2 separate regions of the Homo sapiens genome follow, and region 1 is linked to region 2. The links come from fine-mapping of genetic effects on gene expression. A gene starts in region 2. The other region holds a variant in brackets. All regions are shown on one strand. Distances are between the middles of the regions. Region 1 has its middle 32 kb from the start of CCN3. Region 2 holds the start of CCN3 (cellular communication network factor 3).

The links. PIP is the estimated chance that this variant, and not a neighbour inherited with it, causes the effect.
Region 1: its variant is fine-mapped to the expression of CCN3 in whole blood (TOPMed, PIP above 0.99).

What each region holds. Positions count from the first base shown.
Region 1 is chr8:119,445,891-119,451,269 of GRCh38, reverse strand. No RefSeq gene overlaps it. Among named protein-coding and RNA genes, the nearest start is that of CCN3, 32 kb to the right of the region's middle. The variant A/G (reference allele first, on the strand shown) is at 2,810.
Region 2 is chr8:119,413,055-119,418,375 of GRCh38, reverse strand. CCN3 (cellular communication network factor 3) reads right to left here and starts at 1,930. Exons shown (of 5, transcript NM_002514.4): 1 at 1,760-1,930; 2 at 1,407-1,632; 3 at 67-318. The coding sequence starts at 1,843. LOC124902009 (a long non-coding RNA gene) reads left to right here and starts at 2,067. Exons shown (of 2, transcript XR_007061077.1): 1 at 2,067-3,405.

The sequences.
Region 1 (5,379 bases), 33 kb before region 2:
GTATGAGTCTGATGTGCTAACCCAGGAAGAAAATAATGAAGTATCTATTCAGAATGTTGCAGGAGAGATGGAGAACAGGAGACAAGTTTCAGAGAGCCTTTGTAATACACTTGAATGGACATGGAGACCAGCTGAATGTAGGAGAGGGGAAAAAAATGGGAGGTGACAATACTTAGAACTTATCTGCTTGGATAAAAATCCTATTAACATAGAGAAAGAATATAAGGGGAGGAGCAGACCGGAGCAAGGAGGGATAATGATCAAAGATAGTCTATTTTGGGATGAGGTCGGTACGAAACATCTACAACAAACATTGAGAAGGATTTTACTACATAGTTGAAATTATAAGTTTGGAGCTCAACAAAGAGGTCTAAGGTGGTGCTACCTATGTGAGGGACGTTGGATGGCAGTTGAAAACATGGCATTATTGAGAGTGTCCAGGGAGAATACATGGAGCAAGGACTTCCAGAGTATGGATCAGGGAGTCCCAAAGTGATTGATGGATGGGTTTTAGGGGGTCTTTAAATTCCCCCAAATTATATACTCACCTATATGTTATGGGTTTGCGCATTTTAAAGGTAATTTCTTCCATTTTCTCAAAGCAACTATAATCTAAAGAGGACATGACAGGCTGATACAGGGCAAGAAGAGAATGGAGCCAAGGGCAGAATGATAACAGGTTATTCACAGCTGGGCACTATGGCTCACACCTGTAATCCCAGCACTTTGGGAGGTCGAGGTGGGCAGATCACCTGAGGTTCAGGAGTTTGAGACCAGCCTGGCCAACATGGCGAAACCATGGTTTTTTTTTTGTAAAATGTTGTAAAAATACAAAAATTAGCCAGGCATGGTAGTGCATGCCTGTAGTCCCAGATACTTGGGAGGCTGAGGCAGAAGAATTGCGTGAACCTGGGAGGTGGAGGTTGCAGTGAGCCAAGATCTTGCCACTGCACTCCAGCCCGGGTGACAGAGCGAGACTGTCTAGAAAAAAAAAAAAAAAAAGAAAGAAAGAAAGAAAAAAAGGCTTATTTACATTTAAGACACGATGGAAAAGCAAGACTGAATGGAAAGGGGCACAGAGATACTGGGACATTAGGATAGGGTGATGTGAAATTACTTGTTCCAGTAGAAATTTGTGGGAAGGAGGAAGTAGTCAATATGCTAAAATTCTGTAGGAGGTTCAAACAGAAAAGGGGCTTAAAGTTCGCATGCTCCACCACTGCACTCCCCAGACACTGCTGTCTCTTTAAACTAAAAGGATGATGAGCATAGCCAATTCTCTTGGCCAATTTACCAAGGGCCACTCTCTTCACTTCTTCCCTACAGGCAGAGTCTCCTGCTGGGATAGAGTCTTAAAATGCTTTTGTGGTTTTCCTTGTTAGTAGAGATGGCCATGCGATTTAAATCTGATCAAGGGGAACTACAGAAAGACCGCTAGGGAACTTTTTCTCACAGATGAAAAGGAAGAGGGCCGGGGGCCGGGTGTGGTGGCTCACGCCTGTAATCCCAGCACTTTGGTAGGCCAAGGCAGGCAGATCACAAGGTCAGGAGATGGAGACCATCCTGGCCAACATGGTGAAACCCTGTCTTTACTAAAATACAAAAAAATTAGCCAGGCATGGTGTCGCGTGCCTGTAGTCCCAGCTATTCGGGAGGCTGAGGCAGGGGAATCACTTGAACCCGGGAAGCAGAGGTTGCAGTGAGCTGAGATCATGCCACTGCACTCCCGCCTGGTGGCAGAGCAAGACTCTGTCTGAAAAAAAAAGAGAAAAGAAAAGAAAGAGAACAATGATTAAGAAGAGCCTTCTTCCTTGTCTCCTGTTCCTCCTGTTCCTCCTGTCTAAGTAGTTGTGTGAGGATGTGATCCCTGGAGATGCTCTTAAAGACATGAGGACACCATCTGAGGATGAGGGAATCAAAGAAAGGAATGAACTTACATATCTGAAGATATTATTGTGCATTAAACAAATGCTGGAGGCCACGTATCTCCTAGCTTATTATGCGAGTCAATAGAATCCAATTTGTTTGGGGAAATTTTTAGTTGAGTAGTCTGTTTCTTGCAGCCATAAGTAAGATACAACAACAAAGTAGAGAAGGGAGCATAGACTATTCTTTCAAGAAGACTTAGTGTGACTGGAAAGCAAGAAATGTGATGTAGTTTGGGTATTTGTCCCTGCCCAAATCTCATGTTAAATTGTAATCCCCAGTACTGGAGTTGGGCCCTGGTAGGAGGTGTTTGGGTCATGGGGGTAGATCCCTCACAGCTTGGTGCTGTTTTTGTGGTTCTGAGCTAGTTCTTGCAAGATCTGGTCATTTAAAAGTATGTGGCAATTTCCCCCACCCAACCCTACTTGTTCCTCTTTGGCCTCATGACATGCCTGCTTCCTGCTCACCTTCTGCCATTATACTGAAAGTTCCCTGAGGCCTCCTCAGAAGCTGAGTGATGTCAGTGTAGAGTCTGCATAACCATGAGCCAACCAAACCTCTTTTCTTTATGAATTACCCAGTGTCAGGGTTTTCTGTTTTGTTTTGATTTGTTTGTTTGTTTTTGTGACACAGTCCCACTCTATCACCCAGGCTGGAGTGCAGTGGCACCATCTCGGCTCACTGCAACCTCCACCTCCAGGTGCAAGCAATTCTCCTGCCTCAGCTTCCTGAGTAGGTGGGACTACAAGTGTGCATCACCATGTCCGGCTAAATTTTTTTTTTTGTATTTTTAGTAAAGATGGGGCTTTGCCGTGTTGGCCAGGCTGATCTCAAACTGACTTCAAGTGATCCACCCGCCTCAATCTCCCAAAGTGCTGGAATT[A/G]CAGCTGTGAGCCACTGTGCCTGGCCTCCACTGATTTATTTATAGTGTTTTTTGGTACATATCTTTGTATAATTTTCTTAGTGGTTGCTCTGGATATTATAATATATATATGTGACTTATTGCAGTCAATGTATCAATACTTTATTAATTCAAGTAAAGCATGGAAACCTTACTTCCATTTCGGTTCCTTTTGCCTTTTCCACTTTTAAATATCATTGTCTTGAGTATCAGGAGGTATTATAAGTTTTGTTTCAATGATGAAATATTATTTATAGAACTCGTGAGGAGAGGAATAGATCATTGTATGTATTTATATTTCTGTCCCTCTTCTTCCCCTATTAACTGGCAGAAGTGCTAATTTATATGAATGAATTAGCTTATAGTTATGCTTATGTTAAAAATACACTCATAAAGATTTATTGGAATATGTTCCCAGTAACTCTATCCAGGATCAAAAATATTTCTGTTGAGTGGAGTTGGGGTTTTCAGTGTCCTTACCTATAAAATAAAAAGGGGTGGAACTGATATCCATTCTAACTTCTAATCATGTAGTCATTGGGCATATTTCTTCTGTGAAACAGAAATCATAGCTTTGGGGAGAAATTTATAGTAATCTTATAATACTTCAAGCTGTGAGTTCCTCCAAATTTTGACTAAGGGTTTGCTAGTTTCATTGTTCTTTATTTGGGGTAAAGTTATTCTAATGGGGAAATTTTTCCCAACATCATTATTCTCTAGATGAAAGACAGGATGATTTAAAAGTTAAAATAAAACTGAGAGCCAGTCAGCACCACTAATCCTTACTTCCATACCTCTCTTCTCTTTTCATGGCTATTTTCTCCCTTTTGCTACCTGATAGTGGGAGTGTATGAGAAGAAACTGATCTGTCATTCATTCCAAATCTTTTCAATCCAATGGGAAAATTCTGATAACTAGAGCTTTAATAGTTACTTGGTCATTCTTACCTTCTTTGGGATAACTACAATTTCAAATGAAACCCTAAATTCATACAAAGTGTCTCCTTTCCAGTTTTATTTTATAGTTAATTTTATACCCCAGCCATCTTTAGTAAATTCCAGGATTTCCCTTTCTCTCCTTCTCCCGGGTGATGGGGCATCGGGGTCTTGACCTCCAACCAGTATAATCTACCAGGTAGGGGGCATTTCCTAGTAGTTTCCATTTCCAAATTCTCTGAGAATTTCTTCCAATAGGAGCCTCACATTGTTCTGAGTTACTTAGTAACAAAAGCAACTGATAAGTGTACTATCTACTACAGAGCTATTCAAGTTGAAATGGTTATTTCTATGTTACGCAAATTTCACCTCAATTTAAGAAAAAAAAGCAGCAGCTCATGACTTTCCCTTTTAATCCTTCCTTTCTCTGAGCAGAAATAGTGTTAGTTGAACCAGATGAAAAACTTAAAGCCAGCCAGGCATGGTGACTCATGCCTGTTATCCCAGCACTTTGGGAGGCTGAAGTGGGTGGATCACGGGTGGTCAGGAGTTCAAGACCAGCCTGGTCAACGTGGTGAAACCCCGTCTCTACTGAAAATACAAAAATTAGCCAGGCGTGGTGGCACTCACCTGTAATCCCGGCTACTCGAGAGGCTGAGGCAGGAGAATAGCTTGAACCCAGGAGGCAGAGGTTGCAGTGAACCGAGATCGCACCATTGCACTCCAGCCTGGGCAACAGAGTGAGACTCCATCCCCCTGCGCCGCCCCCCCACCAAAAAAAAAAAGAACTTAAAGCTGCTTCTCAGAAACTGCACATGTAATTTACATTCATATTTCATTGGCCAAAGAAAGTTACATGACCACATCTGACTTCAGTAGGGCGGGAATATGAAATCCTCACATTGGATGAGGAAGTGAATATTTTGAAAAAGAAAAAAATATATATACACTCTACACACATGGACTCTAGCCTCAAGGAGCTAATACAAGAGACAGATATTAAACAAATAAATAATGTATAATTCTAATTTATGATAAGTGCTATAGAGTAAGGGAATGGTATGCATAAGGTAGAGGCCTATTTAATTAGAATGGCCAGACCAATCTTTTCTGAGGAGTTAGTAATTAAGCCAAGTCCCAGTGGGTGATAGGAGTCAGCCGTGTGATGTTAGAAGGCAACAGCAGAGACAGAAGCACCTGGAAAGACTCTGAGAACTTGGGATGCTCGTGTACATGAAGGACACTGTTGTAACTTGGGTTAGATGGTTCAAGGAAAGTGGTCTGAGAGTAGGGACAGGCTGGTTAATGCCAGGCCTTGTAAGCCATAAGTGTAAGTAGGGTAGGTTAAACTGCTGTTAACAATTAGACGTCAAAATAAAGACTCAAACACAAAAGGATTCTATTTCTCATTCAAGTTCATATCCAAAGTGTCTGGTAGTTGGGAAGCTCCCTCTAATACATTGATTGAGAAACCTATGGTCCTGCAATCATCATTTGGCTTTGCCATTTCCTGGATCTAGTCACATTTTTGCACTCTGCCAATGAAAGGAGAACTAGAGTATGAAAGAAGCCACTTGCTTCTTAAAAGAGTTGACCCAGAAGTAGTAAAACTCACCT
Region 2 (5,321 bases):
TGCAAATTCTTCATGTTTGTATTTACCCTCTACTATGACCAGCCCTAGGTATATTGAGTTTCTCACCTGCAAGGGTAAGGCCTCCCAGTGAATCCTCCTCATCTGGGCCACAGATCCACTTTTCACAGCACTCTCCAGGCACCTCAACTTTTCTTGGAGCTGGGCAGTTAGGCTCAGGCAGTAGCACATCCAGCTGACAGCGGGGCACACAGCCAATCTGCCCATCTCTGCAGGTGCACTGGAATTTGCAGCTTGGCTGAAATTTCTCTCCACTGCGGTAGATGACCCCATCGAACACACAGTTATCTCCCTCTACCGCTAGAATATTGGGGAAGCAAAGTGAAAAGCAAAGAGGAAGAGGAAAAACAAGAACACAATACAGTGAAGAAGCTATGTAAGATTTGGAGGGCATGTTCCAAAACCCAAGTCCTTTTCTAGTTCAGGCGATCTGGTTTCTCATGTATCTACTGTAGAGTGATGTCCTCATGGAGGCCTCTCAGAGCAAGAAGAAACCTTCAAGATCATCTAGTCTTGCCACTCATTTTATGGATGAGGAAAGAGGTGTGCAACTGTGAAGTGATGTCCCCAAGGTCCCCTGGCCATTTTTCCCAATGTTCAGTCATTTTGCGAGAACCTCCTTAGAGTTTCCTACTCCAGCAGCTTAGACTTAAAAAGAGAAAAAGTGTACTTTATGTTTTCCAACAGGTTAGCTGATCAAATTGGGAAGGGCATTAAGATTCCTTGACACTCAAGCATAATAAAATCATCAGTAGCTTAGAGAAAAAAGTAAAAGCCCTCCTGTCCAGAAAGGAAGGGACAATCTTCAACTACAATGTTGTATCATGTGAAAAATTGATCCCCGACTGATTACGTTTTAGAAGCCTGGATTGGCTAGTTGCCTGCATTTTATTTTACTTGCAGCCAGAAAAGGGTTACATAGTTATCCCAGGAGACTAGCAGCTGCTTTGGTTCAAATGGGACAATTACAGGTGTGAAAACAAACCTGCTGGGTTTTCCCCAACTGCAGTTTGGGAAACTGTGAGCGTGTGAGTAAACCCGAGCTTCCATCAGCCCCAAGTGGCCCCCTAGAAGTGTCCGAAGGAAATGACTTCACTGGCCCTTAACTCTGCGTGGCTCCCCCTTTGCTTAGATTCTTGTCTAGGAAGCCAAGTGAGGAATGCCTTTCACCCCCAGGGCAGGTTTCCTTTCTGGCTCTGGCGCTCCCCAAAGCCCCAAGTGCTCCCCAAACCATGCCTGACACACAGTAAGTGCTCTATACATGTCATTTATTGCATTATTATTATTTGCTTATCGCCCTCTGGGAAGGGGAATACAAAAGAGAAGGGAGGAAGCAGCTTCACTTAGCTGCAGGAGAAGAGGTCAAACAGCAGAGGGAGCAGGATTACCCGTGCAGATGCCAGTCTGGTTGCTGGGGTCCGCGCTGCGATCACAGTAGAGGCCACTGCTCTCGTCGCATGGCTCCAGATCTGAGCAGCTCTCGCCACGCTGGCGGGCACACACCAGACAGCATGAGCAGCCGTCCAGCACCGCGCGCACCCCGGGGGCGCAGGTCGGCGGCGTCGCAGGGCACCGGCCCGGGCACTGGGGAGGGCAGCGCTGAGTCGCAGCGACCTGAAGGCAGGCGAGACAAGGAGAAACCACTCAGCTGGGACAGAAGACGCAGTGAGCCCGGTGACCAAATGGGGGCCACCAAGGCGGGCAAAGTAACTTGGGGGCATCTTAAGGGTGTGCCACTTACCTGTCCCAGGAGATGGAGAAGCAGGAAGGTCAGGCAAAGGCACTGCTTTCGGAGACAAAAGCTCGTGCTCTGCACACTCTGCATGCTCAGGCTTTCCCCTCTCGCTTTTACCAAACGAGACTTTCTTCGCTGTAGATTGGCACTGCTCGCCTTCCCCCTGGTCCGGTGCTTGCCGATCACGCCCAGCACAGGTTTTATAGCGCGCTCCTGGGACGCGCACAAGCCGGTTGGCTGCAGTGCAGGGAGGAGGGGGGAGATCGGCTGGGTGGGGAAGTGGAACGAACCCCGGGGTTGCCATGGCAATTGGCTGTGGGTGCTGCTCTCCTTAGGGCGCGGCGCCGGGGCCTGCGTGTGCCTGTGTGTGGCGACTGGCTTTTCCCAGAGGGTGGGGAGGGGCTGGGTGGAGTTCCGAGGCCAGGACCCAGGGCTCGCTCGAGCGCGTGGGAAGGAAACGCCCGTTTCCTCCTGGAAGTTGCTTCGCCTTCTCCCAGGACGAAGACACCACCACTCCCCACCATCCTCCTCCACCCTGACCGTTCCAACCAGGGCTGCAAGCGTGGGGTCCCCTTACGGGATGCCTGCAGTTTGGGGCCATCTGCAGGGGATTGGCAGAAGGCCCAGGGGTTTAGTCATGAGGGAAGCACATGCAAGTTTGTCACCGTTTAGGGCACTCATTGAATGTGTTGAGAGGGAGGGGAGAGAAGCAAGGGAGGAAAGGAGAGAAAGAGGAGAAAGAGAAAAGTGTGTGTGTGTTGGGGGGAGGGGAGTGGCAGGGGGAAGGGAATCTAGAAAAAAAATCGATATGTCAGGAGGTGGGGAATGCTATTGGCCAAATGGCAAAATTCTTTTGACTCTAATCCTTCTAGCTTCACTCAGTCTTAAACCCCAAGGTCCACAGGTTTGTTAGAAATAAAAGTAAAACACACACACACACACACACACACACACACACACACACACATAAAGAAAACATCATAAAATAAAACAAAGAAATCTTGGCAGAAGAAAGCCTTGAAGCACCTGCTGTAGCAGACCAAATGTGAGACGGCACACCTGAGAGTCCAGAAACCTTTGACAGTTTTCTAAGTGGGTTCAGTTCAACCACCATCACCACCATCAAAACCTCCAGCCAGGGAAGAAATGAGGAAGAAACTGGCTTAACTTGGCTGACCCTTCAGCAAATCAAATCCTTCTCTCACCGGGCATCCGCTTTCAAGAAATGATTGCTGGGGCATGCTTGTCATCTCTCATGGGAAAAAGGGAGCAGTTTTACTGCTCCAAAGGTGACATTGTTTGAAGGATTTAGAACAGTTTCCCCCCACACTTCAACACTGGTGCTGCCCCTAGGAGAACTATGCCCAGCTCTTTTGAGGATAGTTGCTTTGGAAAAAAACAAAAAACACTTTTTAAGGAAAATTATACAGGCCTGTGATGTAATTCTAGAGTTTAAAAAGAAACAAATGGCCTCTACCTCATCTGTCCCCAGCATGAAGGAAATCAAAGGCAGCTTGCGGAAGGGGCCAGGTCTGCCTCTGCAACACCCGCAGATGATGAGGTCACCTCAAGCCCCTTCTAGATAATTCTCTCGGCAGCCTGAAACCACTATGACACACTTCCAAGCCTCTAATAGTTCTGCTTTCTTTGAGGTAAATGAGACTGAGTAGTACTCAAACTTAACTAGAGATGAAACAGTTCATTTGCACTCTTGAGTAGGACATTTACCTACTCTTCAAATTGATAGGCTTTGGAGGGTGGAGGGTGGGAGCAGGGAGAAGATCGGGAAAAATAACTAATGGGTACCAGGCTTAATACCTGGGCGATGAAATAATCTGCACAACAAATGTCCATGACACACATTTACCTGTGTAAACAAACCTGCACATTTACCCCTGAACTTGAAATAAAAGTTTAAGAAAAAGATAAAACAAAAAACAAAAAAACTGATAGGTTTTGTAAGCCATTTGGCCTAATGATGCCTCCATCTGGCTGCAGATCGAATCAACCAGCATGTATTTTGTTAAAAATACAGATTCCTGAGCCCCACTCTTGACCCACTCAGTAGGATTCTCTGGTGGTGGCTCTTGGTAGACAGCATTTTAATGTACTTTGAAATGGAGCAACTAGAAGCACTGCTAATGGGGAGGCAAAGAGCATCGGCCAAGTGTTCCAAGCATGAATAGACTCAGATAGAACAAGGAGAAATTGGCAACATGGAGATTGGGCTAGCTCTTCTTGGAAAGAGTGGGGTGGGAGTGGTGACAGGGAAAATGTAACTTTAAGACAAGGATTAACATGTCAAGAAGTCACTGCAAGTGTAAAATTGCTATTCAGTTTTGATTGCAAGAGATGGAAACCAAACTTGAACTAGTTTTTGCGAAAAGAGGACTTTACTGGAAGGATGCTGTGATGTTTCACATAGTGACAGCACAGGAATGGTACAGGGAGTCCTCAGAGGCAATTGGGATCTAGAGAGAGGAGGGCCAACAGGATTACTTCCACATAAGGGAAAAATGATCCTTCCAATCTTCTTACTTTATGACCTTATCACCACAGAAGGAATGTCCCTGTCTCTTAGGCCCAACTTTAAAAGTTCCAGGAATTAAATTGGATGGGTTCACCCTGGACTAATCAATGGGGACAAGGAAGGTGAAGTATGGGGATTAGTTAGAACCTCATGGTTGGAATGGAGAGAAAGAGCAGTTCTCTTGGGAAGAAAGGACTGTTCCTTAAAAAGAAAGCAAGCTTGGTGAGCAAAACAATACACATCCACTCCATCATCTGCTATAAATGCTCTAGGATGAGGATCTTCATCTTAAAACAATTGTAAATTGAAAGTGATACCATCTGATGATAATCATGTCATGTCATGCTTCACTGCCTCCAGGACATAGTCTCTGAAATCCTTCATGCCGGGATAGATGTTATCCGCAGTGCAGGCCTGGGATGCCGAGCTTATCTCTTTTATCTCATAACTCACTGGATAATCATTATAGTCACACCATTTAATGATGGGGATATTGTTGGAGAAATGTGTCCTTGGGTGATTTCATTGTTGTGTGAACATCATAGAGTGTAGTTACACAGATGCGGATGGTGTAGCCTACTACACACCTAGGCTGTATGATATAGTCTATTACTCCTAGGCTACAAACGTACAAACAGTACAGAATATACTGCACTGAATACTGTAGGCAACTGTAATACAATGGTAAGTATTTGTGATTTAAACATATCTAAACTTAGAAAAGGTGCAGTAAAAATATGGTATAAAAGATAAAAAATTGTCCACCTGTGTAGGGCACTTACCGTGAATGGAGCTTGCAGTGGGTGTCAGTGAGTCAGTGGTGGGTGAATGTTAAGGCCTTGGACATAACTGCACACTACTATAGCCTTTATAAACACTACACTTAGGCTAAGCTAAATTTATTCAAAAATTTCCTTTTTCAATGATAAATTAACTTTAGCTTACTGTAACTTTTTTACTGTATAAACTTTTAATTTTTTTAACTTTTCGACCCTTTTGTAATAACACCTACCTTAAAACACAGATACATTGTACAGA